Homo sapiens: one gene and its partners. The protein of the gene in region 5 interacts with the protein of the main gene of each other region in a biochemical or structural test. Each region holds a gene or a part of one and is shown on either strand. Other genes may lie near its edges.

The links.
Region 1: the proteins of KPNB1 (region 5) and RANBP3 interact in a test that uses a peptide from one of them, tested with the Homo sapiens proteins (one study listed by BioGRID).
Region 2: the proteins of KPNB1 (region 5) and PLCD1 form a complex in vitro, tested with the Homo sapiens proteins (one study listed by IntAct).
Region 3: the proteins of KPNB1 (region 5) and ITCH form a complex in vitro, tested with the Homo sapiens proteins (one study listed by BioGRID).
Region 4: the proteins of KPNB1 (region 5) and KPNA3 form a complex in vitro, tested with the Homo sapiens proteins (2 studies listed by BioGRID and IntAct, with this or other methods).
Region 6: the proteins of KPNB1 (region 5) and TAF3 form a complex in vitro, tested with the Homo sapiens proteins (one study listed by BioGRID).
Region 7: the proteins of KPNB1 (region 5) and NUTF2 form a complex in vitro, tested with the Homo sapiens proteins (one study listed by BioGRID).

Annotation. Positions count from the first base shown.
Region 1 is NC_000019.10:5,926,141-5,929,640, reverse strand, and holds part of RANBP3 (ran-binding protein 3), read left to right. Parts: intron 1-1,553; coding exon 1,554-1,673; intron 1,674-3,500. UniProt on the Homo sapiens protein: Acts as a cofactor for XPO1/CRM1-mediated nuclear export, perhaps as export complex scaffolding protein. Bound to XPO1/CRM1, stabilizes the XPO1/CRM1-cargo interaction. In the absence of Ran-bound GTP prevents binding of XPO1/CRM1 to the nuclear pore complex.
Region 2 is NC_000003.12:38,026,843-38,030,833, forward strand, and holds the start of PLCD1 (1-phosphatidylinositol 4,5-bisphosphate phosphodiesterase delta-1), read right to left. Parts: upstream 2,801-3,991; 5' UTR 2,698-2,800; coding exon 2,664-2,697; intron 1-2,663. UniProt on the Homo sapiens protein: The production of the second messenger molecules diacylglycerol (DAG) and inositol 1,4,5-trisphosphate (IP3) is mediated by activated phosphatidylinositol-specific phospholipase C enzymes. Essential for trophoblast and placental development.
Region 3 is NC_000020.11:34,478,273-34,481,772, reverse strand, and holds part of ITCH (E3 ubiquitin-protein ligase Itchy homolog), read right to left. Parts: intron 2,144-3,500; coding exon 1,984-2,143; intron 1,175-1,983; coding exon 1,041-1,174; intron 708-1,040; coding exon 567-707; intron 1-566. UniProt on the Homo sapiens protein: Acts as an Acts as an E3 ubiquitin-protein ligase which accepts ubiquitin from an E2 ubiquitin-conjugating enzyme in the form of a thioester and then directly transfers the ubiquitin to targeted substrates.
Region 4 is NC_000013.11:49,702,252-49,705,682, forward strand, and holds part of KPNA3 (importin subunit alpha-4), read right to left. Parts: coding exon 3,370-3,431; intron 230-3,369; coding exon 135-229; intron 1-134. UniProt on the Homo sapiens protein: Functions in nuclear protein import as an adapter protein for nuclear receptor KPNB1. Binds specifically and directly to substrates containing either a simple or bipartite NLS motif.
Region 5 is NC_000017.11:47,652,919-47,656,418, forward strand, and holds part of KPNB1 (importin subunit beta-1), read left to right. Parts: intron 1-3,500.
Region 6 is NC_000010.11:7,825,005-7,828,504, reverse strand, and holds part of TAF3 (transcription initiation factor TFIID subunit 3), read right to left. Parts: intron 1-3,500. UniProt on the Homo sapiens protein: The TFIID basal transcription factor complex plays a major role in the initiation of RNA polymerase II (Pol II)-dependent transcription.
Region 7 is NC_000016.10:67,849,933-67,853,432, forward strand, and holds part of NUTF2 (nuclear transport factor 2), read left to right. Parts: intron 1-3,500. UniProt on the Homo sapiens protein: Mediates the import of GDP-bound RAN from the cytoplasm into the nucleus which is essential for the function of RAN in cargo receptor-mediated nucleocytoplasmic transport.

The DNA of each region.
Region 1 (3,500 bases), on a different chromosome or scaffold from region 5:
GAACTCCTGGTACCGTCTTTGGGAAAGTGGGGAAGAGGCTTCCCCTCCCGCCCCACACACACACAGAGTCTCAGACTGGTTACAGGCCTCGGGATTCGTTTATCAGTTTAAGCGAATCCTCTAAGCAGGCTCCGCCAGGTCATAGACATACCCTGTAGTCAGAAACATTTTGCTGTTTGCCTGCCCCATCTCAGGTGACTCTGTGGGCTCCACCCACCCGGGATTAGCACCAGTCGGTGTGAGCAGGGGGCACACAGCGCAGAAAGCCAAGAGCCAGGGAGTGTTTCTGCTGGACGGGATGCAGGCGGCCCCAGTGGGGCTGGGGATTAGCCCATCCTCTGAGGACTTCCAGGTCGCCAAACACGTTGTGTGTTTAATTTTAAAAAGCCACGTTCACTCTTGCACAGGCACAAGGATGCAGCGTGAAGTCAGCAGTAGCAGAATTTCTAGGGAGCACAGTAGAGAAACATTTACACTTTTCACTTCCTTCACAGTTGGACCAGAAAGTGCCCTCAGCGCTGTGATCCGCTGATTCTGGGCCTGGCATTGTAACTCCAGGCTTCCCTGCCCGCTGGACACGCTGAGCCAGTCAGAAGCTGCCTGCAGCCTTTCTCACCTCCGAGTTCACGGTTGTCAGGTCCCTTCACGACATCTCCCAGGAAAACACTCCCTGCCTCACGTTCATGTCCACTGTACACATCGCCAGAGACTCCAAAGATCTGCCAAAAGCCTTTTAAAATTTCTTTTCAAATTCTACAACACCTTTTTCATCATGTGGTATAGGAAAGACATATACAAATTACTAGCAACTCCATATTCCATTATCTCAAGATAAATGCATTTGGTCTTAGGATATTTAGTTACAAAAAAGTCATGCCTACATGTTGAAAATATTTACACAAAATGGAAATCCTAGAAAGTAACAAGCAGGAGCCACCCTCCAGCTAAGAGGTTCCCGGGTAACCTCCGTCAGTAGTTTGAATTCTCTCTCCCGACTTATTTTCCTGGGCATTCCTCAACACACATACACACCACACATACACACACACACACACCACACACACGGGACTGGATTGGCTTTAACAGAAATGGAATCGCACTTCCGTGTCCCACAAGCTGCTCTCTTCTCTGATCCATGTATTGTGGGCATGTCAGAGGCCTACCTCCCTCTCGGTGGTAATAGCTGTGCTGTACTTTTTTTCCCCCATATTTTCTATTGTAAATTATTTCATTCCTTGGCCAATGATGAGCAACCAGGTTATTTCCTGTCCTCTGCCGGCACTAAGGCTTCTGCAGGGCACAGGTGTTTCTTGTTGTTTGGAGACAGGTTTTTGCTCTGTCACCCAGGCTGGAGTGCAGTGGTGTGATCTCAGCTCACTACAACTCCCAGGCTCAAGCAGTCCTCCTGTCTCAGCCTTCTGAGTAGCTGGGAGTGCAGGCACATGCAGAGGAGACGTGTGGAGTACATGATCTGGTGTGGGATTGCTGGGCATCCGTCTGGGCCAAGTGTGGCACTGGTTTTGATTACTCTGTTTTGTTTTGGTTTTTGATAGGAGAAAGAGCCCCAGAAAAATGAGTCCAGCAATGCCTCTGAAGAGGAAGCCTGTGAGAAAAAAGACCCCGCCACACAGCAAGCCTTTGTATTTGGGCAGAACTTGAGGGACAGAGTTAAGGTATGTGAGCTGTTGAACCAGCACATTGACTTTTTATGCCTTCCCCAGGTTCAACAGCAGGCAAGTAGGTAGATTTTCCTTTTAACAGGGGAGGGGAGCGTGGGACAAAGAAGGTGTTAGCGAGGCAGCCCCATGGCTCACGGCACAGTCTGCTGCTGGTGTGCGTGTGCTGGGCCCTGGCACTTCCCCACCAGCAGCCCAGGCTTCGGAGCCCTCACCTGCAGTGACTTCTCAAGTCAGGGTCCCTGGTTCTCATGGTAGCGGGGACAGGGAAGGTGACTGAACCTGAGGCCTCAGGCTTTCATAGCAGAGAAGAAAGACAGCACGGTCCAGTGTTCTCAGCTCTGCCCAGAGGTTTCTGTTCCCGTATTTCAGGGTTTCTCTGTTTCAGCACTAGCAGCATTACGGCTGGACCATTCTTAGTTTCTGAGGAGTCGCCCTGGGCACTGCAGGGTGCTGAGCAGCATCACTGGCCTCCACCCACCCAATGCTCCTGACATCTGACAACCACAAATGTCCCCAGACGTGGCCAGTATTCCCTGTGGAGTAGAATCGCCCCCATTAAGAACTGTCACCTTATTTTTTTTTAAGTGGGGCAGGGTGGGGTGACAACACTGTCTTCTCTCCTGAAAGGGAGCAAAGCGTCTGCCACCTCTTGGCTGCCCTCCAGACATGTGGTCCTAGTTTGGAGATTGTGTGGTGGGGAAGGGATGGCAGTGGTTGGAAACAGTGGCCCTGGACCATGCACTGGGACTCTAGGAAGACCAGGGTCAGCCAGCACCACCTTTCCCAGCCACAGACATGGAATGTGCTACGGCATCTCTAGCAGCTCCACTGGCAAGAAGCTTCTTTCAAAGCTCGAGAGGCGGTATCGGTGGCTGTGTCTAGAGACTTTTGTGGTTGTCACAACTGGGAGGTACTTCTGGAGGTCAGGGATGCCACTCCGCCCCTTGCAGTGCCCAGGATAGCCACACCACAGGGAATGTTCTGGGCCCAGTGTCAACATGTCAGTAGTGTCGACGGGGAGGGCCCTGAAATAAACAAAAACCTCTCTAGCATGCAGAAAGCACCGGCTTGTGTTTTCTGCTTTCCTTTCTGTTACTCACCGTCCAACAGAAGCCCAAGTCGAGAAACGTGGAAAGTTGATGTTGCTGTTGCCATGGCTTTAGGCAAAATAATGAGTCCCTCAGGGGCTGTTCCCTCCAAGGAGGGAGGGCAAGAGGCGGGGAAGGGCTTGGCCTGTGGAGTTCAGGCCCTGTGGAATCTCTGCCTTGAGTCTGGGGAGACAGCTGCTTTGAATTTGGTGGGGTTGGCTTCTTGCAGAAGTCAGAGGCTTACGTGCACTTCGCAGTCTCAGTCAAATCCCAGCCTCTCCTTCCAGGGCAAACTTGAGCCATGGATTCTTTTTTTTTCTTTGGACACGAAGTCTTGCTGTGTCGCCCAGGCTGGAGTGCAGTGGCATGATCTCTGCTCACTGCAACCTCCACCTCCTGGGTTCAAGCGATTCTCCTGCCTCAGCCTCCCAAATATCTGGGATTACAGGCGCCCACTGCCACATCCAGCTAATTTTTTGTATTTTTAGTAGAGGTGGGGATTTCTCCATGTTGGCCAGGCTGGTCTCGAATTCCTGACCTCAAGTGATTCCCCGCCGCCTCAGCCTCCCAAAGTGCTGGTATTACAGGCACGAGCCACCGCGCCCAGCCAGAGCCATGGTTTCTTAACCCTCTGAGCCTCTGCTTCCTTGTTGGTCAAACAGGGTCCCTAACATCCCCCTCCCAGGCCTCGTGAGGATTAAAGCAGATCGTGCATTTGACAGACTCAGCATAG
Region 2 (3,991 bases), on a different chromosome or scaffold from region 5:
ATTCTCAGACCCACAGTAAGTAGAACCAAAGCTAGGACTGGAGCCCAGGTCTACTGGGGCCAAGATGAGGCCCCTCTATTTTCTGTTTTTACAAACGGCACCTCTTGCAGGGGTGGGGGCAAAAGGGATTGGGTGTAGGAAAAGTTAGTGTGTATGTGGGGGGTGTTCAGTGAGGGGAGGGCCCTGGGAGGTAATGTCCTTTGGGGCACATCGGGGGACCTGCTAGAGAAGCCAGTCCAGGCATAGCCAGAATAAAGAGTGGAAGAAGTAAGGTGAAGGAAGGAGGATGGATGCTGTCGCATCAGTCTGAGGGCTTCAGAGGCACTAGAAAGAGCTGGCTGGCTCGCTCTTGAATCTAGTTCTGGCCCTATTTTCCATGACTAGGAACTACCTTATGATGCCCCCATCATCTCCCAAAGAACTACAGATGGCAACTCATAGGGCATAGAAATTTGGGGAGGGGGCCTCCTGCAGGAACATAGTACTCACTGGGTACCAGGCACTGTTCTAACTGCTGTGTAGATATTATCTCATTCAATCTTCGTAGCAACCCTATGAGGTAGATGGTATTATCCCCCATTTTACAGATGAGGAAACTGACACACAGGGAAGTCAAGGGATTCATCTGAGATGAGAAAGCCAAGACTTGAACTCAGGTACTTTGCTTTCAGAATCTATGCCAGTAAACTACATTACTTCTGCATGCATCTGGGGTGAGGACAGAAGGGACATGTCACATCTAGGTGAGCCGCATAGCTCCCCAGGCCAACAGAAGGAGTCCCTCTGGGCTCCTTCCAGAGAGTGTGGAGCCCTAGGCCAGAGAGTGTGGTCCTGCAGCACATCCAGTGCTGGGGCACCCACACTGTGAAACGGATGCAGACTCTCCAATGCAAGTGTAGACAACCTGGAACAGCACAGGGCACAGTGATCACCCCCTCCCACCAACAATTCTCCTTGACAGGTTCTTATTTCCCCATCTGGTTTGCAGTGTGGACAGAAGGCAGTTGAGGTAATTTTGGGTGATGAGCTAGAAGTGGCAGGGCCTTCAGGGAAAACAGCTTGGGGTCACAGTGTTCATGTCAACCCTTCAGGAAAGGCTGGACTGAGTTAGGCATTTGGGAGGCTGGTCTCAAATGGGGTGGGCCAGGGCAGCCAAGCCTATGCCACAGGACTGGGAGGTCCTGACTGAGCCTCCATGTGTCTTCCTCCATGGAAAAGATATCAAGGCTGCCTCAGGAGAGAAACTGGACAAAGGCACAGACACTGAGGATGAAGCCTGTTCCAACAGGAGCCAAGGAATGACGCTGTGTCAGAGAGAAAGCAGAGATGTCCACTGTGTCCTCTCAGCTGCCCAGCCTCCCTTCTTGCTAGTCTGGCAGGCGCACGAAAGACACCTCTGGCCTGAAGAAAGAAGAGGGAGCACTGGAAGGGGCAGGGACTCCATGACTCATCTAGACAAGGTGGCTTTAAGGAGCCTAGGCTATTGGTGTAAAAGCAACAGCTCTGGGCACAGAGCAAGGTCTCTCTGGGCCAGGAGGACCAGGTCTGTGCCAACTGCAGAACACGAGATAGACTGGAGGCTGGCTGATGGGAACATCTCTAAGTCCCTCTAAATTCCAGGGGGACTCTAGTGGAAGGCTAGAGGACTCTGCCCTTCTCTTTCCCATCTATTATGTCCATGAACAGTTTAGATGGATGGGTGGTGGCCACTAAAGCCTCCAACCCCAAGGGTACTAAAAAAGAGAGGGATATACAGTAAAGCAGTGATTGGTATGAAAGGAGCAGGGTTTGCTGAGATGGCAAGTGACCTGGGAGGGCAGGAGGGCAAGCCCCCACCAAGAGTGAGTGAGTGCCTGTCCTGGAGCAAAGAGGCGCCCAAAGTTACCCTCCCCAACCTCCCGCCTCCCAGAAGGCCTCCAGATCTGCCTTCGGGAGCCCAGGCTCCCCTCGCTGCTGGAGGGACAGCGAAAGGGCAAAGAGCTGGCTCATATTGGAGGAAACAAAGCTCCGCTGGACAAAGGATGGAGCAGGCAGCTCCGGCTGAGACCTGGCCCTGTCCCCCGAGGAGGGTCGCAGATGAGGGGATCGTGCTGCTTCTTTCAGCCTGAGCATCGCTGACTATTCTGCGCTGGGCAGTTAAGGCTGCACGGCCCGACCACGGTTAACCTTGCACACCTCCTCTCCCCACCCGCTTAGCCCCTGCTCCGCCACACCCGCGCGGCCTGACGCGGTCCAGGCACGCCCAGGCTTTGGGGAGCCTCTGGGGCGGCCCGGATGGGGCAAGGAGAATTTTGGTCGTTCTTGGATGCTGTTTCCTTCCTTCGCCGCCCCTCCGTGCGAGCGGGATCGTGGAGCCCAGACTTTCATGACCAGGACAAGGGGGTCCGCGAGGCGGAGGGAAGTCTTTAGACCCGTACCGCCCGCCCACCCACCCCCCGGGCTAGATCTCGGACAAGCCTGGAAACGCCCAGGGTCGTGCCCGGCAGTCCCACCCAGGGAGCCGCGGGCTGAGATTTTCCCAGTCCGGAGAAGGGGCAGAGAGGCGGGCCCGGGGTGGTGTGGAGGCGGCCGAAGGAGCTGGGGGCTCCCTGTCCAGGGCCCGGAACAGCTTTCCAGGGGTCCACCCCTGCAGGGTCTCCCGCTCGCGCGGGCCAGGCACTCACCGTGCAGGGTCAGGAAGTCCCGGCCCGAGTCCATGCCCGACGGGCGGCGCGGCGGGAGGGGCACCGCGGGACTCACTTGAGTAGCGACAGCACCGGCGGCCTGGGGTCCGAGCGGAGTGCGGTGCAGGGACCTGAATGGACCGCGGTGGGAGGAGGCCGGGGGTGGTCCCGGGACACCGCCCCGCCCCCGCTGCCCTGCGCCCCCGCCCCCTGAGCCCGCCAACCCTCGTCTCTCCCCGCCCCCTTCTGGGGACGCGAGAGGGAGGGCAGAGCTGGGGGCCCGGAGGACTGGCCAACCCTGGCCCGGGCCAGCGGGCGCGCCCCGACCAGAAATAGCCAGATTCCTCCAGCTTCCTCCGCCGCCGCCACCCACGGGCCGCGGGCCCTGTCATTACCGCGGGCGGCCGGGCCCCACGCCCTGTTGTGGGCGCCTCGCTGGGGTCGGGGTGATGCTGGAAAGAATCCGGCGTCATCCCGGGGAAGGGATCGTGTAAGGTCCGACGCCCAGCCGGGCTGCTGCGCTAGGGAGACGCGGCGTCCAGGCTTCCAGCCGCAGCTCCCAGCGTTCGCATTCCCTTCTGCGAAATGGGTGCACGGACACGATTAGAAGGTCTTCAGAGAGCAATACCTGGACCTTGTCGGGAGGAGGGTCCCCTTCCCTCTCGCTGGGAGGTTTCTAACCCCAAGAGTGCCTTTGGTGGAGTGTTGGGGGTGTGGGAGGGGGAAGCAAGCAGGTGCACGGATTTCACTTTTGAGCCACTCATATCCCAAAACCCCAGCGATCCATGCAGCCGAGGGGGAGGATCCCCAGGGTCCCTTCTTCAGGTGGCCTCCCAAGGGGCTGTCTGGGCAAGGTCCCTATGCAGACCCACCCCCTAACTCTTGGGACCCAGAAAACCCCCTTTATAGGTTGCCCAGAGACCCCTCCCACCACAGACCCTGGGAGGGTCCCTAGATCCTGTTGCCCACCACCCCTTTGGAGAGTCCCTTGGGAAAACTGGGCTCTTGGTGTCAGAGAGCCCCCAGAGGGCCTCCCAGGAAGCCACCCAGGCCTCCTGGGCTGATAAGGCCAATGTGAGAGTCAGGCAAAGCTAGTTGGACCAGCTCTGCGGGGAGGGGGCTGGGCTCACCCCAATCCCTCCTCTTCTGGGCCCTAGGTGGCCTTGAATAAGGGATGTGAAACAGCTGAAGGACAGTCTTCTGGTTCTGGGGGTTAAAAGTGGATCAGGACTTCTGGGCTTTGGAGAGCCCCCTGCTCTGCATGCCCCCTCTCCACAGACGGGGCTTCACCCCTTACCTGGCACTCAGCTCCAATCCTGTCCTGCAGT
Region 3 (3,500 bases), on a different chromosome or scaffold from region 5:
CCAAAGTGCTAGGATTACAGGCATGAGCCACCATGCCTGGCCGATGATGAGGTTTTAAAAACAGGAGTTTTCCCTGTACAAGCTCTCTCTTTGCCTGCTGCCATCCATGTAAGATGTGACTTGCCCCTCCTTGCCTTCCACCATGAGGGTGAGGCCTCCCCACCCTCGTGGAACTGTAAGTCCATTAAACCTCTTTTTTTTATAAATTGCCCAGTCTTGGATATGTCTTTATCAGCAGCAGGAAAGTGGATTAATACACCTTACAATATTCCCCATGAAAATATCTGCATATATATTTGAGATTCTTTTTAATGACATGTTATACAGCATAGTGATTACAGAGTTGATGTTTAAAAGAGTGATCCTGCATGACTTTTATCCTTAAAACTCTTTTAAAAACACTTAAAAAAAAACTTTTTAGAAATGAAAAATGACTGCCTACATAGGATATTGATTAGTACAGAGACAAATACTATTTTTGGAGATACTCTCCATTAGTATTAGTAAGCAATTATCAATGTGCTGTAGTCAAACAAAAAGTGAAATGTGAAAAGGAGCACTCTCACCTGATGTATTCCTCTTTATTTTCTTCTGTTACAAGAATATTGCCACCATTAGGTTTCAGATCATGACTCTTAATTTCACCTAGAATTTCTTTGTCAACGGAGAAGTACATTTCCAAATCACATTCCTCAATATTGTTTTCCCTGCACAAATGAAATTAGCACTATTTGTTATATCCACCAATTCAATCATAATTTATAAGTTTTTAACGAAAGGCCCATGTTCTTAAATAATTAATATTAAGCTATAACATCAAAATAAGAAGAAATAAGATTCTGTTCTAAGGTCATATTATTGCCGAAGATCTTGGGTGTATTTTTGTAAAATTTATCATATTGAATAAAAAGACAGGTTTGATATATAGATCATTTAAATACAATAAACCAATTATGTGCCTACAGTTTGGATAAGTTATCAATACTACACGGAATGCATATAACTATATTTTAATAAATTACATGGAAAAAGAAACTTACTTAACCCAGATGAGAGAATTGTAAAATTCTGGATCAATAGATTCTAAATCCTTGAGTCCAACTGGTTTGTTCAAGATACGCTTATAGAATGGTAAAGAAAAACCCGTGTCTATGAATTTCCCATGGAACAGAGCCTATGAAAAAAGGAAACAAGACCGCTTAAAATAACTGTACAATAATCATTTTATTTCAATATATTAGATGTACTCTTCATTTAAAAACACTTCCCTGGGTCAGGCATGGTGGCTCACGCCTGTAATCCCAGCAATCTGGGAGGCCGAGGTGGGTGGATCACCTGAGGTCAGGAGTTCGAGACCAGACTGACCAACATGGAGAAACCCCATCTCTACTAAAAACACAAAAATTAGCCGGACATGGTGGCACATGCTTGTTTGTAATCCCAGCTACTCGGGAGGCTGAGGCAGGAGAATTGCTCGAACCTGGGAGGCAGAGGTTGTGGTGGGCCGAGATCACGCCATTGCACTCTAGCCTGGGCAACAAAAGTGAAACTTTGTCTCAAAAAAACACTTCCCTGGCTGGGCACGGTGACTTATACCTGTAATCCCAGCACTTTGGAAGGCTGAGGCAGGTGGATTACCTGAGGTCAGGAGTTCAAGACCAGCCTGGCCAACATAGCAAAACCCCTTCTCTACTAAAAATACAAAAATTAGCCAGGCATGGTGGCGCACACCTGTAATCCTAGCTACTTGGGAGGCTGAGGCGGGAGAACTGACTGAGTCCAGGAAGCAGAGGTTGCAGTGAGCCAAGATCGTGTCACTGTACTCCAGCCTGGGTGACAGAGCAAGACTCTGTCTCAAAAATAAAAAACAAAACAAAACAAAAAACCACTTCCCTTTCTCTCATATGATCTGTTATGGCACCTAAGAGAAAATTTAGTATTGCTGAATAAGCAAAGTAAACATAATTCTTGACCTGCACTTACCATGGCAATAAATCTGCCAATAAAACGAAAATATTTCAGGTGATCTGGATTGATGTAAGAAGCGGGGTTTATCTGCAAGCAGTAGTTATCCTTCCCTGCATATTCAAACAGGCAATACATTGGGTTCAACACTTCATGTGACAAAAGAAAGAACCATTCTCTGAAATCAAAAGAAAATTTACGATGAAAAATCTTGTAGGTTACCAAGAAATCAAAGAACAGTGCTATAAAGTTCTCAGGGATCTATACCCCTCAGCTAGTGATAGTTTTCTAATCTCATGTTGATTTTTATTGCTTCTGTTCAAACTCACATCTGTTTCACAGAGTTGGTAGTATACACCATCTTTGGTAGATGGTAATATATACATTATTACATTTCAAAAAATCTAAGACAACATTGCACCTTTATTTGATGAACGACTAAATTGTATTTTCCAATTTTACCTGAGATACATCGTAATTTCAGAGATATTATAAAATGAAAATATTAGTCTTAGAATCAATGAAATACTATTCATAGGCAAATTTAAAATTCACTATTTACCCATGTGAGTAAAGTGGCTGAAATCAATCTAATATTCCATCTATTACTAAGTCCCATAATAATCCCCATCAAGTGCCACTACTCCCTACACGTTAAATCAATATGAAAATTCTTCCAATTTCACAGAGGCAGTAAAGTTCTTAATTCCAGCCACTCACATATTAGAAAAATGCTGAGACTCTAAGTCAAATATTGTGAAAATATGAACCAATATTAACATAAGATTATGGTTACTAAAACTACGTAACATGGGTGATCTGGGGTAATACATGTGGCATAAGCCTGTAATCTGGATCTCTTTTCCTGTTAGTTCATGGCCTCTTGTGATAAGTGTATCTCATGACACACTTTAATATTGCTAGTTTATTTTCTTATTAGGAATGAATGATTGCTCTCCTCTTCAATTGCCTTTAACTTATACAAAATTACATGTTTCTACTCATATTTGTTATTTATCTATGATTATATCATATATTTTGAAATAATTTTATTTAAACTCAGAAACATAATATAAATAAGAACTACTAAAATGTAGCCACCAATTAGCGTGCACACAAAGACACAGGCTCTGAACTAGGTCATTAATAAACAATATTTCTACTCTTCACAATAATCCTAGAAATGTAGATATTAATATTCTTATTTTACAGATGAAAATATTTGCCCAACATCACACTATTGAGAGCAGAAAAAGATTCAAATCCCGTCTTGACCCCAAAGTCCTTGTCTTTGCACAATGCCAGCTCTACGCAAATTTTTAACCTGGTGTGATATATTATCATGGAATAAGCAAAGCAATTCTCATTAGAGACTATCTTCTAGGGTCCAATATTAAGCTCCAATATGAAGAAAGCAGAATTAAGACTTTCAACTCCTATTTTGTACAACCTTCTATATTTTCATGACAAATATACTAATCTCAGTTGGAAACTGAGTAACTATTACCTGTATCAGTAATCTGTGGTGGGGAAAA
Region 4 (3,431 bases), on a different chromosome or scaffold from region 5:
CTGATGGAATGTCTAATAGAAATACAGTACAAACTTATGTCATCCTAATAATAAAAGGAAAACTCTTAGTAAATTTACATCATGTATAGGTTTTCATTTACATGAAGATACACGCTATTTTAATATCTACTTACATCATCACCAGAGAAATACTGATCTATGATTTCAAATGCTAATTTATATATGTCTTCATTTTCATGTTGCTGTAAAACTTCAATTTTCTCCAAACCTGGTAAAAATAAAATAATCAAAATAACTGGTTAATTGATAAGGAGATACTAATCAAAACCACACTCATTTTAATCATGGAGAAATCCTAAGGAACTCAGAACACACTGCTCCCCCATCTAAGATAGTGGTTTGTCTAAAAAACAGACAAAACACGGGGCTGCTTCTAGTTGGAGGACCAGAATCCCACTAATTTTTTCCTTCTTAGAAGCCCTTGAGGTACCCGGATCCCTGAGGCAGACAGTCTAAAAAAACACCCAAACAATCCATTTGACAGAGGGAAGCTGTGGCATAAATATGTAAAGAGACTTATTTCAAGTTATATGGCAAGTTTGTGACAGTACTAGAACCAACTCCCCCACAGTGCTTTAATATAAATTTACTAATCTATTTTTTTTTTGAGACGGAGTCTCGCTCTGTCACCCAGGCTGGAGTGCAGAGTGCAGAGGTGTGATCTCGGCTCACTGCAAGCTCCGCCTCCTGGGTTCATGCCATTCTCCCGCCTAAGCCTCCCAAGTAGCTGGGACTACAGGCGCCCGCCACCACACCCGGCTAAGTTTTTCTATTTTTAGCAGAGACGGGGTTTCACTATGTTAGCCAGGATGATCTTGATCTCCTGACCTCGTGATCTGCCCACCTCGGCCTCCCAAAGTGCTGGGATTACAGGCGTGAGCCACTGCGCCTGGGCATTTTTTCTTTCTTTCTTTTTTTTTTTTTTTTTTGAGACGGAGTCTCACTCTGTAGCCAGGGCTGGAGTGCAGTGGCACGTCTCGGCTCACTGCAACCTCCACCTCCTGGGTTCAAGTGTCTCCTGCCTCAGCCTCCCAAGTAGCTGGGATTACAGGTGCCCACCACTATGCCCAGCTAATTTTTTGTGTTTTTAGTAGAGACGGGGTTTCACCATGTTGGCCAGGCTGGTCTCGAACTCCTGACCTCGTGATTCGCCCGCCTTGGCCTCCCAAAGTGCTGGGATTACAGGAGTGAGCCACTGCACCCGGCCAATCTTATTAATCTTACTGCCTCATAAAGTAATTTGTATCTTTCTCTTTGTTTTCCAAATGTTATTACCTTTATATAACCACAAAATGAGTTTTTAGAACCTTATAATTGGTATAAAAGATATAAAGATTTAAATTTTGAAAAACTTTCTTTAAAAAATGAATAGAGGTCTTATGTCCTATAGCCACAATGAACCTGGGAGAAAATATTTCCAGAACAGATATCATAGAATGCCTTCATTTATATTTCCAATATATTTACTCCACACATCATATACATGTTTATCAATTTCACACCTTAATATTCTTCCTTGAAATGTCTTTTTGAAGGTTATTTTAAAATAGTTGCAATTTTTTCTTATATACTAATAAACCAAAAGAATGGGGGAAATCGTTGCCAAAGTGCTTTATACAATTATAAAATATTAATATGTATCCTATTACTCCTATAGACAAAAGTAACTATATTGATAAAAAGCTGAAGAGTAGTAATTCTCTAAGTTGCTCAAACTTACTGTGTTATGAACCTGACTACAATTTTTAATTATCTTAATAGTAAGAAGATCTGGATTTTAACTTTGCTTCTATCACAACCTACTTCTGTCACCTTGGACAAGACTCCTTAAAATCTGTGGGATAATTTCTTCTCAAGAAACCCTCCCGGCTGGGTGCAGTGGCTCACGCCTGTAATCCCAGCACTTTGGGAAGCCGAGGCGGGCAGATCACCCGAGGTTGGGAGTTTAAGACCAGCCTGACCAACACGGAGAAACCCTGCCTCTACTAAAAATACAAAAATTTAGCCGGGCGTGGTGGTGCATGCCTATAATCCCAGCTACTAGGGAGGCTGAGGTAGGAGAATTGCTTAAACCCGGGAGACGGAGGTTGCGGTGAGCCATTACACTCCAGCCTGGGCAACAAGAGCGAAACTCTGTCTCAAAAAAAAAATAAATAAATAAAAAATAAATAAATAAATAAATAAATAAATAAATAAATAAATAAATAAATAGAAAGAAAGAAATCCTCCCAGTCTGAATATTCTACGGTACTACTGCATTTGTTTTCTCTTAAAATAAATAAATAAATAAACAATAGAATATTCATATAAAGTAGTCAATGAAATGTAAAATCTAAAACATGACATTATGATAAACTAATTTAAGGTTTAAACATGTTAGTACATATTGAACATGTACATTTAAAAACAGAATTTTAACATATGTTTCACATGTCATTAAAGAATAATACAGTATGTCAAATCACAATTATTTCTCATTAAAATTTCAAAGTAACTGCCACAGTAATAACTTCAGGATGTAGTTGTGGAAATCCTAAGAATCATTACAAGATTGAAACAAAATATCTAGGTGACTCAGAAGTCAGTAACCTTTTCCAACTATATGAAATAATATTTCCTAAAGTGGGGTCCACAGAATTACATGGTAATAACACACAAAAAAAGTGTTTCATTGTTAAGAAGTTTAAGAAATGCTGGATTAAATAAAGCTTTAAAATTTATGTAGTGTTGTAAGGGCTCTTAAATTTGCTGTCATGCACTGTGACTTCAAGAGAAGTATTAGTGTTTCCTAAAATGCAATGTCAGGCCAGGCGCAGTGGCTCATGCCTGTAATCCCAGCACTTTGGGACGCTGAGGCAGGTGGATCACTTGAGGTCAGGAGTTCGAGACCAGCCTGGCCAACATGGTGAAACCTCGTCTCTATTAAAAACACAAAAATCCACTGGGTGTGGTGGTGTGCGCCTGTAATCCCGGCTACCTGGGAGGCTGAGGTGTGAGAATTGCTTGAACTCGGGAGGCAGAGGTTGCAATGAGCTGAGATTGTGCCACTGCACTCCAGCCTGGGCGACAGAGCAAGATTCTGTCTCCAAAAAAAAAAAAAAAAGCTATGTTGTCAATCTCTAGAAGGCTATACAGTGACTTTCACAACCTGATTTTGCAAAGTATGGACTACTGTCTTCTGGAAAATCCTCTTGGAATGCAAATATAGTGAATAAAGAAAAGCAACATACTGTGATCATTTAAAAACAACGTATCCTAGTAATTTTCTGTCTAGTAAGTTGACTTTAAAGAACTTATGTTTCAGAGTTCCAGTGCTCAAATACTCTTCTTCCATCAATCCACTCTTACCTCCACATTCCTCTATTATTTCAGCTATTGTGCTTGCTTCATCACCGGCCATTATCAGAATG
Region 5 (3,500 bases):
AGAAATCGCTTTCTCAGATCTTTTGCTATTTGCATGGGATAGAGCTAACAGTGTGATAGGTTTCTGGGACCTCAACTTTACCTAAAGATAAAAATTGTCTTTGTCTTAAATCTTTCTCAACACAGCTTGTCCATTCCCATTGATGGATTGGAATTCTTTTTAGATGACTGAGGTAGGCTGCAGCAGTTTGGGAAACTTTAATTACGTGCCATAATTGGTAAAATCTGTTTGGCAAATGGGAGTAGTGTACAAATTGGTGCTACATTTGTATAAAAATTAGGGAATTTGTTAATAGGTATTTCCAAGCTCTCCAGAAATTCCGATTCGGTACTTCTGGAGTACAGCTCAGGGAATTTTTTTTTTTTTTTTTTTTTGGAGACAGTCTTGCTCTGTTGCCCAGGCTGGAGTGCAATGGCATGATCTCGGCTCACTGCAGCCTCCGCCTCCCAAGTAGCTGGGATTACAGGCACCCACCACCATGCCCAGCTAATTTTTGTACTTGAAGTAGAGACGGGGTTTCACCATGTTGGCCAGGCTGGTCTTGAACTCCTGACCTCAGGTGATCTGCCTGCCTTGGCTTCCCAAAGTGCTGGGATTACAGGAGTGAGCCACCTCGCCTGGCTGTTGTTGTTTTTAAATTAAGTTCTTTAGTGATCTGTCTTACATGGGTAAGGCACAAAGAGGAGTGAGTTAAATATCTGTGCAGTCATCATTTTGTCCTTGGTATTTGAGTGGAAACTAGTGGGGAATTCCTACATATGTACTTGTGCAGGACATGGTTATGCACATCATACTTGCTATTTCCTGGTTCTAGATATCAGCATTAGGTAAAGTAGTGCCCTGTAAGGCAGTAACTTCTGTATCTGGTTGTGTACCTCCTTCTGTCACCAATCTTGCATACCCATGATAAGGAGCCGGGTTATTAAATCCAACTTGGTTTCAAATCGTTTTGGAGCATGTAGAGCTGTTTCTATTCATGTTGGTTCTGCTTGTGTAATAACAACATTTTAATTCCTTCTCCCTCAGCTAAGTGACATAAATGGAAGTATATTCTATCACTGGAAATCTCGATACTGATAGTGCCCATTCAGTTTCTCATCTTCCTTAATTTACACACTAGTAAATGGGATAAGATGTAATTGGAATTGTAATTGGCTTATTTTTTGGCACATCACTCTTAACACCAACCCTTTAAAAAAAAATTAGACAATAATGGCTGGGCGCAGTGGCTCATGCCTGTCATCCCAGCACTTTGAGAGGCCGAGGTGGGTGGATCACCTGAGGTCAGGAGTTCGAGACCAGCCTGGCCAACATGGCGAAACCCTGTCTCTACTAAAAATACAAAAATTAGCTGGCTGTGGCGGTGGATACCTGTAGTCTCAGCTACTCTGGAGGCTTAGGCAGGAGAATTGCTTGAACCTGGGAGGCGGAGATTGTGGTGAGCCAAGATTGCGCATTGCACTCCAGCCTGGGTGACAGAGTGACACTCCATTTCTTAAAAAAAAAAAAAAAAAAAAAATTAGATAATTTGTATAGGCATGGTTAAGCCCTCGGGCATGAGAAAAAAGCTAACAGTACCTTGGCCTTTTTCCCTTTCATAGCACAACGATAACTAATACTAAGTTTCACTGTTGGTGATCTTTTTTGAAATCTGGATATTGGGGCACAATTGGGAGCTAGTTTCTCTTTTCTGATAATTGAATATTACTATTAAGGTTACCTCTAGTTTAAACAGAAAACTTTTAGTACTCAGGAGGTGGACATCCGTAGTTTCTAAATCACCTCAAGTAATATGGAGTCTTCAGAAAGCAATCTAAAGGAAAAAGGTAAAGGTAGAATGGGATTCAGTGCACTCCACATATGTACTAGGAGACTATGTAGTGTGGTGTGAAGGCACCCTGGACTTGGGTTAATAATACCCATTCAGCCCCTGATATTTTGGACAATTCACCTTGTTTTTCCCCCTCATTCCCTCGTGTCTTTGACATACCGTTTTTGTCCATTCTAGCTCTGCTAGTCCTCGAGAGCAAAGCCTTTCATTTAACATCAATCAGAACTGTTTGTAGTTGGGTAGAGCTGATGGGGGTGGGGGCCAGGGATGATGATATACCGTATAAGAAGGAAAGGGGGAGTTCATTATTGGTGCTAGCTGCAAAGCAGGATACTAAGTGATCCGACCCAGTCAGCAGAGCTGGCCTGAATATCTGGCAGCTATTCTTTGTCCCGTGTTCATGCCAGAACAGTTAACTGTTTGCCTTTGAGTGGACTACTGATTCTTAGTGAGTTCATTGACTGAATTAGCTGATCACGGTAATAATTAGCTCTAGGTCAATTGTGGCTTCATCTTTTATCATACCTGTGCCTTTACTCTTTACATAAATGGTGGCGTGGTTACCATGTCAAGCGAGACATGTTTAATGACAAGTGGATCTTGTTTTGACATCTGGCTAGATTTTGGTATCTGTCAGTGATAGAACAGTTCTTTGATTCTTGGGCAAACAGAACAAATCCTTTCAGATTGGAAGTTATATAAAGATTAGTTCATAGGTGTTATTAACATCAGCAACGTTGTTTTTGTATTTAGTGATGTTGTTACTTGACCAAGGCCTTTCTATGTAAGTCACCCCGAATGCTGAGTTGTTAGTGATTAGAAGGAAAAAGTTTTGTTTCAGCCCACGTCTCATGAGTAAGATCTCCTTGGATCAGATTAGACAGTGATCTACTGTGAATAAGACCCACCTGAATGCCCCAGAACTAGCTTCATTCTAGTGTCCATGTCTGTCTACAAAACGAGGGTGTGAACATCCTTTCCTTATAACAGCAACAATGAGCCTGGAAGATGAGTTTTGTCCCCATCTCTCTCCTTTGCCATTTACTGCTACCTCCTCTTGTAACTTCTGGTTTCCCACCTCGTGTTGAAGGTTGAAGTGAGGTGGGATGACTGGTTTTGTTTCTAGGTTCTAGGGCAGTGTTGATTATGCTGATGTTGCTACTGAGGCTGGTTTTTTCTGACAGCCTTTCCTACTTCTCCGTATTATAGATAAGAATTCTGAGGCCAGGCACAGTGGCTCACGCCTGTCATCCCAGTACTTTGGTAGGCCGAGGTGGGTGGATCACCTGAGGTCAGGAGTTTGAGACTGTCCTGGCCAACATGGTGAAACCCCATCTCTACTAAAAATACAAAAACTAGCCGGGCATGGTGGCAGGCACCTGTAATCCCAGCTACTTGCTGGGGGGAGCTAAGGCAGGAGAATCGCTTGAACCCAGAAGGCGGAGGTTGCAGTGAGCCGAGATCGCGCCATCATGCTCCAGCCTGGGGGACACGAGCGAGACTTTGTCTCAAAAAAAAAAAGAATTCTGAGACAGCTGCCTGGGCACAGTGGCTCACACCTGTAATCCTAGCACTTTGGGAGGCCAGGAATTTGAGACCAGCCTGGGCAACATAGGGAGACCCCCATCTCTACTAAAAACCCAAAAAAGTTAGCTGGGTGTGATGGCAT
Region 6 (3,500 bases), on a different chromosome or scaffold from region 5:
CAGCCATCAGAACTGTAACAGTCCAAGCAAAAATATGCATGTATAAAATATTTTCAAAGAGGTCTCACTTCTAAACATATAATCAGATAAAGCAGGCAATAACTCCTTCCACATCATCTCCTCATCTGTCATCTTCACACTGCGGATAATCACACAGCTCCTCAGTCAAGTACCTATCCAGCCCAGCTAGTAAGTCTGTTCCCTCAGATCCTCAGCACGTGATGGTAACACTACTTTACATTGATTCGTCTCTTTTTTTCAGAGACAGGGTCCTGCTATGTTGCCCAGGCTGAAGTGCAGTGGGCATTCACAGGCTCAATCATTGCGCACTACAGCCTCAAACTCCTGGGCTCAAGCGATCTTCCTGCCTTGGCCTTCCAAGTAGCTAGGACTATGGGTGTGCCACTGAATGCAGCTTGACACCGATTCCCCTTATAGCGTGACTTCACTAATGTATATTGTATTTCAATTCAAAAGTAAATTATTTAAGAGCAAGAAAAGAAAAAGGGGACGAGAACTAATATTCGCTGTCATGTGTTTTATTTTTTTTTGAGACAGGGTCTCGCTGTCACTCAGGCTGGAGTGCTGTGGTGTGATCATAGCTCACTGCAGCCTTGACCCCTGGGCTCAACTGATCCTCCCACCACAGACTCTGATAGCTGGGACTACAAGCGTGCACCACCATGCCCAGCTAAGTTTTTGTTTTTGTTTTTTTTTTTTTTTTTGAGACAGAGTCTCGCTCCGTCACCCAGGCTGGAGTACAGTGGCACAATCTCGGCTCACTGCAAGCTCCACCTCCTCTGTTCACGCCATTCTCCTGCCTCAGCCTCCCGAGTAGCTGGGACTACAGGCACCCGCCACCACGCCCAGCTAATATTTGTATCTTTAGTAGAGACGGGGTTTCACTGTGTTAGCCAGGATGGTCTCGATCTCCTGACCTCGTGATCCGCCCGTCTCCGCCTCCCAAAGTGCTGGGATTACAGGCGTGAGCCACTGCGCCCAGCCAAGTTTTTTATTTTTAGTAGAGATGAGGTCTCATGACGTTGCCCAGGCTGGTATCAAACTCCTGGGCTCAAGCTTCAGCCTCCCAAAGTGCATAAGCCATCACACCTGGCCCACTGTTATGTATTTTATATGTTAAACACTGTCCAATTTTATATAAATGTGTTAACAAAAAAAAATTACTTGATTCTCCATTTCCCCAATGTGGTAGGTGTTATTACACTTATTTTACAGATGAATATAAAGTTCAGAAAGGTAAAGTGACTTGGGAAGACCAGAAACTCAGTGACTCGCTGAGTCATGTCTCAGTGATGCCGTGAGGTCCACGCTGTGCCTCTCACAGCCTGCTGCCCCTTCAGGCCTTCTATGTGTGCACACTCGCCAGCTCCAGCTGCTGTGGAGGGAGACTTTCACAGGCTTTTTTGACATGAACCAAGCTGAGTGGCTGATAAGAGGGAACCCCATGGAAGGACCTTGCTAATAATATTTTAAGACCAAAGTCTGGCCTGTCTGTGGCTCTTAAGGAAATAAAAGGAAAATAAAGAGCATGGTGAACAGCATCATTATCAAAGGGGTTCACCTCTGTACCTCACTTTGCACCACTAATCAGAATACCAGGAACTTTCTAACATGCTGTACCCATGAAAAAAAAATATTTCAGATTGTAAATGACAAGAAATGGTCTTGTATGGTTATATTTTTAAATGGTAACCAAAGAATTGCATTTTATATCCTTTTCTTATGAAGAGGAGAACGTTTTGACAAGCATCTTACTGTACTGCCTACCACTTACTGCATCCTTATAAACCATATGCATATATTACAAATCAGCAATATTTTTCCTTCTTAATCCACATGTGTTAGATAAAAAGTGAAAAGTAGTGTTCTCAAGATTTGTTATTTTCCTTTTAAAATGTTTATAATTTATATTGTTTGCATAAAACTAAATGAGTTTCTTTTTTTGCTTCAAATAACCCAGAAAAGAAACCCAAAAATCTATAGTAATATAGTAATTTCAGCCAGAAGTCAGTATCAAAACAACACAAAACAAAACAAAAAAAACACTAAATTGTTTTTCATACTTCTTCACTACCTAATCTAAACCTGTTATCTTAGTTACATTTCCTTGCTAGTATTTAAATATGATAACCATAGCACTTTAAGAGAATTTTATTATGGAATATTTGCATGCTATAAAAATAAGACAAGAAGGACCAAATAGTTAAGTGTAGATTATGATCAAAGTCCTAGTTTTGGTTCTGGGCTGTCGGTGTGTTAGTATCATTCAGTAGAACCCACTGCAGCTAAGATCCAGAGCACCTAAATGATGAGCCACCAATTCACAACAAATCCCTACCACTTAGGTCCAGTAGCTGTCCAGTTTTTCAGATGAGGCAACCCTGACACACAGACTGTACAACAACTTATGCCAAATTTAAACATACTTCCTGAGACAAATAGGTAACACTTCAAAATGCTATTAAAGTAGAACCGATTCTAAGAAATGAATTGCAAGAAATTGGAACCCTTGGGCACTGCTGATAGGAAGCTTAGATGGTACAGCCACTGTGGAAAACAGTGTGGTGCTTCCTCAAAAATTAAATAGACAATTACTATATGATCCAGCAATTCTACTTCAAGGTACAGACCCAAAAAAAAACACCTGAAAGCAAGAATTTGAACAGAGATTTGCACATCGATGTTCATAGCGGCATTAATCACAAGAGCCAAAAGGTTGAAACAACCCAAATGTCCATCAGTGAGTGAATGGATAAACAAATGTGGAATGTACATATATTATTCTGCCTTAAACACACAACGAAACACACAACGAAATCCCGACACAGGCTACAACATGAATGAACCCTGAAGACATCATACTAAGTGAAGTAAGCCAGTCATAAAAAGACAAATAATGTCCAAGTCCATTTATAAAAGGTACCTAGAATAGACAAATTCAGAGAGACAAAAAAAGGAATGGTGGTTGCCAGGGGCTGGAAGTGGTGGAGAATGGGGAGTTATGTTTAATGGGAACAGTGTTTCAATTTGGGAGGGAACAAAAGTTCTGGAGAAGGATGGGGATGATGGCTGAATAACAATGTATACTTAATGCCACAGAACTGCACACCTTTACAATGGTCCATTTATGTTATGTATATTTTACAATAGAAAATCATAAGTAAAAGTAATTGCTGGCATCATTTGCATTGTCCTGAAGTATACAGGTTTTAGAATTTTTTACAAAATGAAAGAACTTATTGCAACTTTTCCAACTCTTATAAGAAAAAATATCGTGTACTTGTGTTAGAGACCAGAAATTACTTAAATATCTCCTTAGAATCTTAGTGAACTTAGTGATCAACATCTAAAATTATGCAGGAAAAAAGGGAACTCTGCAATTGGACTGACCATTATACCTGATTAGCTATCATTTTATAATCAAAAGTTCTATATGATCAAACAATAAACATTGCTCCTCATGATAAAAAACAGAAGTC
Region 7 (3,500 bases), on a different chromosome or scaffold from region 5:
CAGGCGTGAGCCACCACGTCCGGCCTTATTTTTATTTTTTGCAGTGATGTCATCTCCATATGTTGCCCAGGCTGGTCTCAAACTCCTGAGTTCAAGCGATACTCCCACCTCAGCCTCCCAAAGTGCTGGGATTACAGATGTGAACAATTGCCCAGTGATCACAAGGGTTTTCTTCAGGGACAAAAAGATACTTTTCCTTCTCCAACGTTACTCAAGAGTAGGAGGAATTCAGGTCCCTCCCTCTCATTCCAACCTCTAGAAGTTCCCTGTAACTTCTTTTTTTTTTTTTTGAGATGGAGTCGTACTCTGTCTCACAGGCTGGAGTGCAGTGGCGCGATCTCGGCTCACTGCAAGCTCCGCCTCCCGGGTTCACGCCATTCTCCTGCCTCAGCCTCCCGAGTAGCTGGGACTATAGGCACCCGCCACCACGCCCGGCTAATTTTTTGTGTGTTTTTAGTAGAGACAGGGTTTCACCATGTCAGCCAGGATGGTCTCGATCTCCTGACCTCGTGATCCACCCGCCTTGGCCTCCCAAAGTGCTGGGATTACAGGCGTGAGCCACCGCGCCTGGCCGTTCCCTGTAACCTCTTTGTCTGAGGTCAGCTAGCCATTGCTAGGCATCCTGATCCTGAGAATTCGTTAAATGTTTCTGGAACTTGGCGGGCCATCTAGGTCTCAGATATAAGAGAAGTGGCCTGAGGTTCTCCAGGATCTATCTGCATCCTCTATTCATGTAGGGCTGACTTGGAAGTGGGACCTGGCATGCGGTGGTTGGGATATTGCCGCACAAGGATGAGGCAGGATACAAGATGCCTCAGTTCTCAATTAGCTCAAAATTATGTCCCTTCGTGTATAGGAGCCTATCTGCCTATCACTATTTTTTTTTGAGACAGAGCCTCGCTCTGTTGCCCAGGCTGGAGTGCAGTGGTGCAATCTCAGCTCACTGCAACCTCCGCCTCCTGGGTTCAAGCAATTCTCCTGCCTCAGCCACCCGAGTAGCTGAGATTACAGGTGCCCACCACCACACCCAGCTAATTTTTGTATTCTTAGTAGAGATGGGGTTTCACCATATTGGCCAGGCTAGTCTTGAACTCCTGACCTCAAGTGACCCACTCGCCTTGGCTGCCCAAAGTGCTAGGATTACAGGTGTGAGCCACCGCACCTGGCCGAGCCCATCTCTTCTCTCTGAGCCATGTCTTGTTTTATTCCGTTGCCTTTGGAGTTGGTGGTTTGGGAGGGGAATAATTACTTAAGAGAGACACAGAATAGGCAGGGTGCGGTGGCTCATGCCTGTAATCCCAGCACTTTGGGAGGGCGAGGTGGGCGGATCACGAGGTTAGGAGTTGGAGACCAGCTTGGCCAATATAGTGAAACTCTGTTTCTATTAAAAATACAAAAATTAGCTGAGCATGGTGGCAGGTGCCTGTAATCCCAGCTACTTGGGAGGCTGAGGCAGGAGAATCGCTTGAACCAGGGAGGCGGACGTTGCAGTGAGCCAAGATTGTGCCACTGCACTGCAGCCTGGTGACAGAGTGAGACCCTGTCTCAAAAAACAAGGGAGACCAGAATTTTGTTTTTTTTATTATTATTATACTTTAAGTTCTAGGGTACATGTGTACAACTTGCAGTTTTGTTACATATGTATACATAACGCCATGTTGATGTGCTGCACCCATTAACTCGTCATTTACATTAGGTGTATCTCCTAATGCTATCCCTCCCCGCTACCCCCGCCCCAGGACAGGCCCCGGTGTGTGATGTTTCCACCCTGGAGACACAGAATTTTCAAATTTCAGAACAAGTCTGGGCGCAGTGGCTCACGCCTGTAATCCCAGCACTTTGGGAGGCTGAGGTGGGTGGATTACTTGAGGTCAGGAGTTCAAAACCAGCCTTACCAACATGGAAAAACCCTGTCTCTACTAAAAATATGAAAATTAGCTGAGCGTGGTGGTGCATGCCTGTAATCCCAGCTACTCAGGAGGCTGAGGCAGGAGACTCGCTTGAACCTGGGAGGCGGAGCTTGCAGTGAGCTGAGACTGTGCCATTGCGCTCCAGCCTGGGCAACAACAGCGAAACTCCATCTTGAAAAAAAAAAATTCATAACTAGAAGCCACCTTATATCAAAAATTCTAGGATTCAGCACCAGCTCTGAAGCTGGAGCATTGCTTGAGGCCAGGAGTTCAAAACTAGCCTTGTCAACATAGCAATACCCATTTCTACAAAAGAAAAATAAAAAAATAGCCAGTGTGGTTGTGGTGTTGTATACCTGTAGTTCCAGCTGCTCAAGAGGCTGCAGGAGGTCAAGGAACCGTGAGCTATGATCATGCCACTGCACTGTAGCCTGGGGACACTCTAGCAAGACCCTGTCTCCAAAAAAAAGGCTAGGTTTCCCTTAACAAAACACTATTATCTTTTTTTCTTTTTTTTTTTTTTTCACCCAGGCTGGAGTGAAGTGTCACTCTTGCCCAGGCTCAAGTGCAGTGTCGCAGTCTCGGCTCACTGCAACCCCCGCCCTCCGGGTTCAAGCAATTCTCCTGTGTCAACCTTCCGAGTGGCTGGGATTATACCCGCCTGCCGGTATAATCCGGCTAATTTTAATATTTCTAGTAGAGATGGGGTTTTGCCATGTTGGCCAGGCTGGTCTCAAACTCCTGACCTCAGGCGATCCGCCCACCTCAGCTTCCCAAAGTGCTGGGATTATAAGCTTGAGCCACCATGCCTGGCCTTTTTTTCTTTATTTTATTTCTTTATTTTTTTATTTTTTGAGACAGAGTTTCGCTCTTATTGCCCAGGCTGGAGTGCAATGGCGTGATCTCGGCTCACTGCAACCTCTGCCTCCTGGGTTCTAGCGATTCTCTTGCCTCAGCCTCCCTAGTAGCTGGGATTACAGGCATGTGCCACCACGCCTGGCTAATTTTGTATTTTTAGTAGAGATGGGGTTTCTCCATGTTGGTCAGGCTGGTCTCGAACTCCCGACCTCACTCAGGTGATCCACCCACCTTGGCCTCCCAAAGTGCTGGGATTACAGGCATGAGCCACCGCTCCCGGCCCTTTTTTTCTTTCTTTTTAAAGTTTTTCTTAGGGTACATCAGCAGCCTTTTTATTTTATTTTATTTTATTTTAATGAGATAAGGTCTCACTCTTTTACCAACAGTGAGACCCTGTCTTTAAAATAAATTAAATAAATAGAAACCAGCCAGGTATGGTGGTGGGTGCCTGTAGTCCCAGCTACTTGGGAGGTGAGGCAAGAGGATCACTTCAGCCCAGAAGTTCAAGTCTGCAGTGAGCTGTGATTGTGGCACTGCTAAAGTGCAGTTGGTGCCATCTCAGGTCACTGCAGCCTTGACCTCCTGGGCTCAAGCAGTCCTCCCACCTCAGCCTCCTGAGTAGCTGGGACTACAGGTGCGCACCATCACGCTTGGCTAATTATTATTATTATTTCTGAGACGGAGTCTCACTCTGTCTCCCAGGCTGGAGTGCAGTGGCACGATCTCGGCTCA